2 separate regions of the Homo sapiens genome follow, and region 2 is reported to be linked to region 1. The links are microRNA targets in miRTarBase. Many come from high-throughput screens and were not tested one by one. Region 1 holds a microRNA gene; the other region holds the end of a gene's coding sequence.

The links. The annotated mature microRNA hsa-miR-6883-5p reads AGGGAGGGUGUGGUAUGGAUGU and lies in region 1 at 1,631-1,652, opposite strand. An mRNA with a match to its seed (bases 2 to 7 or 8) in the 3' UTR can be bound and repressed. Matches are read on the target gene's strand: a 7mer-m8 pairs with bases 2 to 8, a 7mer-A1 pairs with bases 2 to 7 and ends in A, and an 8mer does both.
Region 2: miRTarBase lists RFTN2 as a target of hsa-miR-6883-5p. Seed matches in the 3' UTR shown: 7mer-A1 at 782-788, 7mer-A1 at 2,147-2,153, 7mer-A1 at 2,766-2,772, 7mer-A1 at 2,933-2,939, 7mer-m8 at 3,038-3,044 and 7mer-m8 at 3,896-3,902.

Annotation. Positions count from the first base shown.
Region 1 is chr17:8,143,415-8,147,481 of GRCh38, forward strand. MIR6883 (microRNA 6883) reads right to left here and starts at 1,657; the gene lies at 1,580-1,657. PER1 (period circadian regulator 1) reads right to left here. Exons shown (of 23, transcript NM_002616.3): 12 at 4,056-4,067; 13 at 3,836-3,967; 14 at 3,483-3,588; 15 at 3,180-3,351; 16 at 2,958-3,088; 17 at 2,544-2,723; 18 at 1,337-1,579; 19 at 1-462.
Region 2 is chr2:197,568,578-197,572,638 of GRCh38, reverse strand. RFTN2 (raftlin family member 2) reads left to right here. Exons shown (of 9, transcript NM_144629.3): 9 at 359-4,061. The coding sequence ends at 631. It overlaps LOC124907952 (a long non-coding RNA gene), which reads right to left. Exons shown (of 2, transcript XR_007087918.1): 2 at 1-657. Among named protein-coding and RNA genes, the nearest start is that of MOB4, 55 kb to the right of the region's middle.

The sequences.
Region 1 (4,067 bases):
TGAACAGTGGAGAGTCCGGGCGGTGAGGAGGACTCGGGGCGAGGGCGGGCAAGGATGGAGAAGGGGAGTGCGAGGCAGGAGTGGGAGGCCCTTCAGCAGGGGTCTGGAGTGCCCCATAAGGATAGCTGGATGGGGTTGGGAACAGATAGTTAGGGAGCACCAAGGCCACCATTGGGGTCACCAAAGGGGCGGGGAAAGCAGCTGGGGGCACAGATGTGGGAGCAGGGGGAAGAGGCTGGGGGCCTCCTCGAGGAGAGAACACTGGGAGAGGGTAGGGCTGGACAACCGCTGGGAAGGGGGTAGTGGCTGGTGGGGTGGGCCAGGGGGTGGAGGGTGGCACGGGTGAGGGGTGTGAGACATAGCAGGGCGCTTCAGCCCGAGGGTTCTGGTGGTGGCGTGAGCGCTTGGCTTTGGATCGGCAGTGGTGTCGGCGGCTTGGGGGTGCGGGGCCGTGGTGGCAGCCTGTGGGGAGAGACTAGGGTTAGCAAGGACCTCAACCTGGGGTTAGTACCCCTGCTACCCACACTGCCCTGACACGCTGACCAGGGAGAGGACAGGCCAAGGTCCCAGAGAGAGCTTCTCAACCCACACAGAACGGGGGACTCAGGAGGTGGGGCACCTTCAGGGAAGAATCACAGGAGCCAGGGACAAGGGGATTTATTGAGAAAGGAACAAGGCCAGGGAGAGGTTACACGAGGGGTCGAGCTGGGGGTGTGCGGAAGATGGAGGCATGCTGGCAGATGGAGGAAGCAGGGTGAGTCCATGGACACATGGACAGATGGCTCTGGTCCGCCAAACTCCTGTGGGCACTGCCAGCCTAGGCATTCCTCCTGCCCATCGAGGCCGTATTCTGCCTAGCTTGCAATGGAGTGAAGAGTGGGGCTGGAAAGCCCAGTCCTGAGTCCTGCGTCTGCCTGCAGGGGATCTCCCTCAGGCACCTGGAGGGGCTGCCTTCCACCTGCCCTTGAAGCCCAGACCCCACCCAGAGTTGGCCCAGAATCTATGCATGTCTCTTCATCAGTGACAACTGACTCCTAAGTGGGCATACTTCCTGCCCCTGCCCCCAGGCTAGGCCTGAAGTCGCTTACCTGGAGACAGCACCTCTGCCTGCCCATCCCAGTGCCATCCCCCCAGGCTGCCCTCCTCTGGCTGCAGCCCGGAACCCCATCCTAGTGGGGAGAAGCTAGCGAGGGGCCTGTCCCTAGGCAGGGCCTAGTGGTGGAAGCAACACCAGCCTGGGTCCCTGGAGCAGAAACACCTCCCTTAAGACCCACCCCCCAACAATCCAGTCCTAGACTGGGCAGAGGGCAGGCTCCAGGAGGCCCCAGGTGGCTACCTCGCTCGCCAAGGGCTGAGGGAGCTGTGGAAGAGCTGTCGAGTCCACGCAGCCTGCCCAGGTCTCGGAAGCGGCTGAGGAAGGCTTGCTCTTCCTTCTGTGTGTGCAGGGACAGCACGGCCTTGGTCAGCCCCACTGGACGGTAGGCGTCTGGGGCTGGGTCAGGGGCTACTGTGGGGCTGGGGGCTGGGCTGGGGGCTGGGCCTGGGGCTAGGCCAGGCAGGTCCTCCATCATGATGATGTCTGAGGAGAGTGAGATAGGGAAAGGTCATCAGAACCACTTCAGGGGTCAACACATCCATACCACACCCTCCCTGTCTGATAGCCTAGCCAACCCCTGGCAGCTCTGCCCCACAGCCAAGCCTGGTCTCCATGTACGTTTCTTGGTCACCTCTCTGCCAACGGCTGGCCCTGGGTCCTCCTCTCCATGCAAAGCTGGCCCAGAAGAAGAGACGATACTCAGGCCCCTCCAGTGGCCACTCCCTGCCAGGAACTCTACTGGGATGACCCCGTCACAACTCTCATTGGAAGAGAAGCCCACCCCTTGGCCTTCCCTCACACATTTTCTTGTTTCTTTTTTTTTTTTTTTTTGACATGGAGTCTCACTCTTTCTCCCAAGCTGGAGTGCAGTGGTGCGATCTCAGCTCACTGCAACCACCACCCCCTGGGTTCAAGCGATTCTCCTGTCCCAGCCTCCCGAGTAGCTGGGACTACAGGCGCGCGCCACCACGCCCGGCTAATTTTTGCATTTTTAGTAGATACAGGGTTTCACCATGTTGCCCAGGCTGATCTCGAGCTCCTGATCTCAGGTGATCCTCCTACCTCAGCCTCCCAAAATGCTGGGATTACAGGCCTGAGCCACCATGCCCAGCCCCTCATGATTTTCAAGGTCAATATCCAAAGACCCTTCAGGGATGTTCAATTTTCCTTGCCTTCAGACCCTGTGTGGTCAGCACCTCAGGGCAAACCCTCTATCCCAGACTCTGTGTTTCAACTGACAGTAACAATACGAGAAGCAGAACAGGGGAAGGGCAAAGCCGAGAAGCCTGGCAGGGAGGGGAGAGCAAGAAGCAGTAGCCCCAAGCCCCAGGTCAAGGGAGGCCTCCTTCTCTCCATCAGGCCCTAGAGGGGAGGGGAAAGGCAGGAGGGAGCTCTAGCTGGGAGACCGGTGGAGCCCAAGCACTGCCCCCCAATTCCACACCCATACCCGACTCCGGGGGCTTCTTGTCTCCCACATGGACGATGGTGGAGCTGAAGCTACACTGACTGGTGACGGACACCACACTCTCCGCCTTATTGGCCAGGGCGAGCGGGCTCAGGGTGCCTCCCACCACTGGCTCCTTCCGTGGGGTGGCCCCCTCCCCAGACAGCGCTGCTGACGGCGGATCTGTGCAGAGAGATGGTGCCAGTTACCATCCCCACCCCCACTGGGAAGTCAGGAGAGAGGATCCCAGGGAAAAGGGGAAGGGGATGGTGGTAGGGAACAGAGGGAACAGTCTGGAGACCAGGAGGCTGGGGAGGAGAGCAGGGCAGAGCAAGAGGGCCCAGAAGCAGAAGGGAAAAGACACAGGGCCACCAGGCCAGGACGGGGCAGTGGGAGCAGGGTGCATTGGATCTTTACCTTTCTTGGTCCCCACAGAGACTGGACCTGTCCTCTGCCTGTCGTCGTCAGAGGCTGAGGAGGTGGTATAGGAGGAGGAGGAGGCACATTTACGCTTAGTGGTGCTGGGGAGGTTGCAGCTCTCCAGGTACCTGGGGATGGACACAGCACAGGGCATCAGAGCAGGGCTTGGGGTGGGCAGGGTTAGAGCCCGAGGTGGAGAAGATGCCTGGCAGGCCTTACCTGAGGATGCTGTCCAGGCAGTTGATCTGCTGGTAGGAGCAGCTGGAGGCTTCTTTCCTCTCGGCCTCCTCAGGGACCAAGGCTAGTGGGGCCTGGACGGGAGCAGAACCCGCCTCCAGCTCTGGGTCTGGGGATTGGCAGGGAAGGGCCTTGGCCTTGAACGTGCCTGTAGCTGGGGCAAAGAGAGAAAGAGGAAAATAGCCTTCTCAAGCTCACATGGAAAAAAACAGCAAATGGGTTGGGGGTGAAGGTCAGGGGACCCCCCAGGTCTGTCTCTTCACCCACACATCATCATCAACTCACCAGGGAGGCGGGGCCGGGACTGAGGCCGGGCCCGAGACTCAATAAAAAGCTGCTGGCCCTGGTGCTTCACCAGATGCACATCCTTACAGATCTGCTGGAAAGTCACCTGTGGGACACAGCACCACAGTGAGCAGAACCAGGGGGTGTCGCCAGTGTCAGGGGCCAAGGGCACAATAAAACAAGAAGGTACCAGTGGGGAGGCACAGACGCCTTGATGGGAGCAGGACAAGAAGGAAAAGGCAGGAAGGAGAGGGCAAAGGAGGATCGGGCAAGACTCTGGGACTGGCAGTGCTGGTTCCAAGAAGGAGAGGGGAAAGGGCGATTAGAGGGTGAGGTAGGAGCAGGTCACTCACTGGCGCAGGAGGCCCAGGCCCCTCTGCATCACCCCCGTTGCTATCACTGGAGGACCCAGGGCTGTGGAGAGGGCCTGGGGATGTCACGGCGCCGACTCCACAGAGTCCCGTGGGGCTGGGGCTGTGGACGGGCTGCAGCAGGGAGAGGGCAGGTTAGATGGCTTGACCCGGCTTCCCACACCTTTTCTCACCTCCCAGGCTCCCTCTCCGCTACTCTCACCTGCAGCAGCAG
Region 2 (4,061 bases), not on the chromosome of region 1:
AAGAAAAACATATTAGTATTTATACCTTGCTTTGTTCTCCCAAAGTATGATTTCAACAAATTTCCTTCCTTAGAGATGTCACTGAGGGCCGAGATGTGTACATAACATACCCATCAACAAGAATGATGTGCCAGGAACCTACAAAGAGTTACAAAACAGGGAGAAGGGAGTTCATTTGTATTTGGGTGGAGAGGGGAATGTGGAGGTAGCTCTGAGCTGGTCGTTGAAGATGAGCAGGATTTTGAAGAGCTGGGGAAAAGGACATTCCTGGAGGCAGAAAGGCAGCATGTGCTAGACCAGAGGGACAGGAAACACCCATCTTTTTAACTCTCCTGGTCACCAATGTCTTGTGTTTCAGAAGAAAGCCAGCCGCCACATAAAAGGTGAAGACAAGAATAAAGCCACTAGTAGAAGCATCGGATTAGACACAACCTCGTCACAACCTGCAGAGAGCAGACACCTGCCTGAGGAGTGCCGCCTTTCTCCCTCCCGGGAATGCTGGACAAAGGAGGGAAGGCTGGCACAGCACAACAGCTTCTCTGGGTTCAGCAGCAGTGACAACGTCCTCCGGGAATTAGACGACGGACAGTTTGATCAGGAAGATGGAGTGACTCAGGTCACTTGTATGTGAGCCATGAGGTGAAGCAAAGGAAGGCCCTGTAAATAATTGTTAAAATCATTGCCAACTGACCTTATTGTATTACTTTCTCTGCATTTATGTAATATTTTTGAATTTTTCCAGACCCAGCCTTTCCTCTAATCTATGTAAACTTTGGCACAACCTCCCAGACAAGGAAGAATAACCAACATATTTATACATTTAGAATCATGTTTACACTTCTCTCAACTAAAACATCTGGTTAAACAGATGTTCCATTCGGTTATTACACAATAATCTATTTCAGCTTCTCATGAATGTACAAAGTAGACTTTCTTACAATTCCTGGTAAGGAGACTGAATATCTCAATCAGTATTTTACCCAATTAGAGAGAGTTCTCAGGAAGTTACAGTCTTATTTAAGCTGAAAAATAACCTCTCTCTCTCTTTTTTTTTCTCTCTCTCTCATACACACACACAGCTAATTAGTGCAAATAAATATCTATTTCCCAAATATAATAATTAATCCACATTTTGTCTTTAACTATAGCATGTATATACAAAGCAAGCCCCTATGTGTTAAAATATTTTTTGAAAAAAATCTTTTTTATGTATCTTTGCTTTTAAAGGGTCATGTCACCAACCCTGTACTGATTCATTGTACATAAATGTTGTTGCTCCTAAAAGCCTAAAAATGCAGACAGCAAAGCAGCATCTCTTAAAATTCAATATGAAAAGAACCCATAATCTCAATACATAAATACCTTAGTAGAGAGTAAGATTTAATTTTTTTTTATTTTAAAGTCCAAATACTATGAAGAGGAAAAATATCAACTTCAATTTGAAACTGAAGTCTTTTACATCTGTCTAGATTTGAATTCTGCTTTTATTTTGACTTGTTAAATCCTGAAGAATGTTGAAACCTAGAATTTTCAATCTGGCAGGAGTAGAAAGATGCTCATAGCACACGCGATATGTATGATAACATATTTTGTTTCATCTTGCTTTTCTTTCCCCTTCTAATAGAGGTGGCTTTGCCTTGACCCAGCCTTTAACAATCTTTAAAATTCTACAAAATAAAGGATTTTCATTTATCTATGAAAGGCTTACTTTGAAAGATGGAACCTCCAAGTGAATTACAACTTATTCTATCATTGATGAATTCAGCCTATTATATATTTTTATTAACATTGATGTTGACATTGTAAGATCATTTTAATAATAAAACATCATTTTTATTGTGTTATTGTTTTATTGAACACAAATATTCATATAATATGTTTGGTTTGGGGGTTTTTTGTGGCTTTTTTTGAGACGGAGTCTCACTCTGTCACCCAGGCTGGAATGCAGTGGCACAGTCGCAGCTCACTGCAACCTCCACCTCCTGGCTTCAAGCGATTCTCCTGCCTCAGCCTCCAGATTAGCTGGAACTACAGCCAGTGTGCGCCACCACGCCCAGCTAATTTTTGTATTTTTAGTAGAGATGGGGTTTCACCATGTTGGCCAGGATGGTCTCGATCTCTTGACCTCATGATCTGCCTGCCTTGTCCTCCCAAAATGCTGGGATTACAGGCGTGAGCCACCATGCCTGGCCTTCATATAATATGTTTTATACATATAACAGATATGTATTACATGTTATCAATTATATAGTGTATCTAAACTAAGTCAATCTCCATTAATTGCTGATAAAATTAACAGGAATTATTCCACTTTTATCATCCAGAAGTACAGTATAAAGGAATTTAAGAATATTCTTCTCAGTCTTATTCTATAGCAATAGCTGTCAACAATATTTGCAGAAATGGTTTTTGTTTTGACTTTTAGATGGACTTGAGTTCCATAATCAAGAGTTAGTGGATTTTTGGTAGAAACAATCACTGCTTCAGGAGTCCATAAAACGTAATGAAGTTAGGAAGCACAAAGAACAAATCAGAAAGATCTGTTTTTCCCAATTCCAGGGTCTACAAGAGGTAGAGACTTCTTTATCATTCAGCCCACATACATAGGGGATTGGAAGTAGTAAATTAAAAACAGAGATAGGAATTTATATTTGACTAAGAAAAAACTCAGAAATATAGCAATAACTTTTTTTTTTTTTTTTTTTTTTTGAGACAGAGCCTCACTCTGTCACCCAGGCTGCAATCTCGGCTTACTGCAACCTCCGCCTCCCAGGTTCAAGTGACTCTCCTGCCTCAGCCTCCTGAGTAGCAGGGATTACAGGCCTGCACCACCATGCCTGGCTAAGTTTTGTAATTTTAGTAGAGATGGGGTTTCACCATGTTGGCCAGGCTGGTCTCGAACTCCTGGCCTCAAGCAATCCACCCACCTTGGCCTCCCAATGTGCTGGGATTACAGGTGTGAGCCACTGCACCCAGCCAAGCAATCGCTTTTTTAAAAAATTTGTGTAAGCATACTTTCTCAGTTTATTTTTTTCTCCCCTCCCGTTTATTTTTAATCTGAGTTATTTCTTATTAAAATAACTTTTATTAAAATAAACTTACTAGTCTGTCATATCCTCAAAACTTGTTTTAGAAGCATTTGCTCCAACAATTACCCTTAAGTTATGTGATGAATTTGTATGATAGCGAATAATTTATGATCAAGTGGTTCTAGAGTATTTTAAATGTGTGTAAATAGCTATGAGCCTATTATTTTAAAAAAAGAAAAAAACTTGGGCTCTCTATGCCTAAGGAGTTAAATATGTCTAATTTTATTATCTGCCAGTTGTATATTCAGTTCTTTTTATAACACTATGATTTCCTTAGGGGCTCTGGCATGTGAATTTTTAAAACCTGTAAGTTATAATGAAAGGTATCAAGATCCCAGATGTTGGGTGAAGATCTGCCATTCCCCTTGGTGTAGTATCTATGGCATTTTCATCTTCGTTTTCAATACCAAGTGTTAATTCCATCCCCTTTGGATTGTATACCACCTTGTTATCTTTTATGGACACATTTAACACCTACCTAATCACCAGGGAAATCAGCTCTATCAGTGTCATTACAATTCATTTCAGTAAAAGAGAAAAGGAAAGGTCACCCTCTTTGAGAGATTCTAGGGCTTTCAGGAGGAGGAGAAGCAGGAGACAGAGCTACAGTCTATTCAAATCACAACTATCTCCAAATCATTTGTGTTATCAGGAGCAGGTGTTTATATATTTGAATATAAATGTAACAGATGCATTTTCATTTCTTTCATTCTGGAGTGCCAGAGGAGCTGTCCCGTTTTCCCGCCCTTGCCTGTTATTGATTCCTCACCACCATTCCTTCTTGGCTGGAAGGACTGTGGCCCTTTCCCTCCCCATATGGCTAAAGAGGATTTCTTTCTCTTAACTCTTCAGAGCCCCAGAGTAGTACTGTATGGAAAGTGTAAATTCAGATGGAGAATCAAATGAAGTGAAATTGCTAACAATGGGGATAGTATATAACTAAGAACACATTATATAAAAATGTACTAGTGG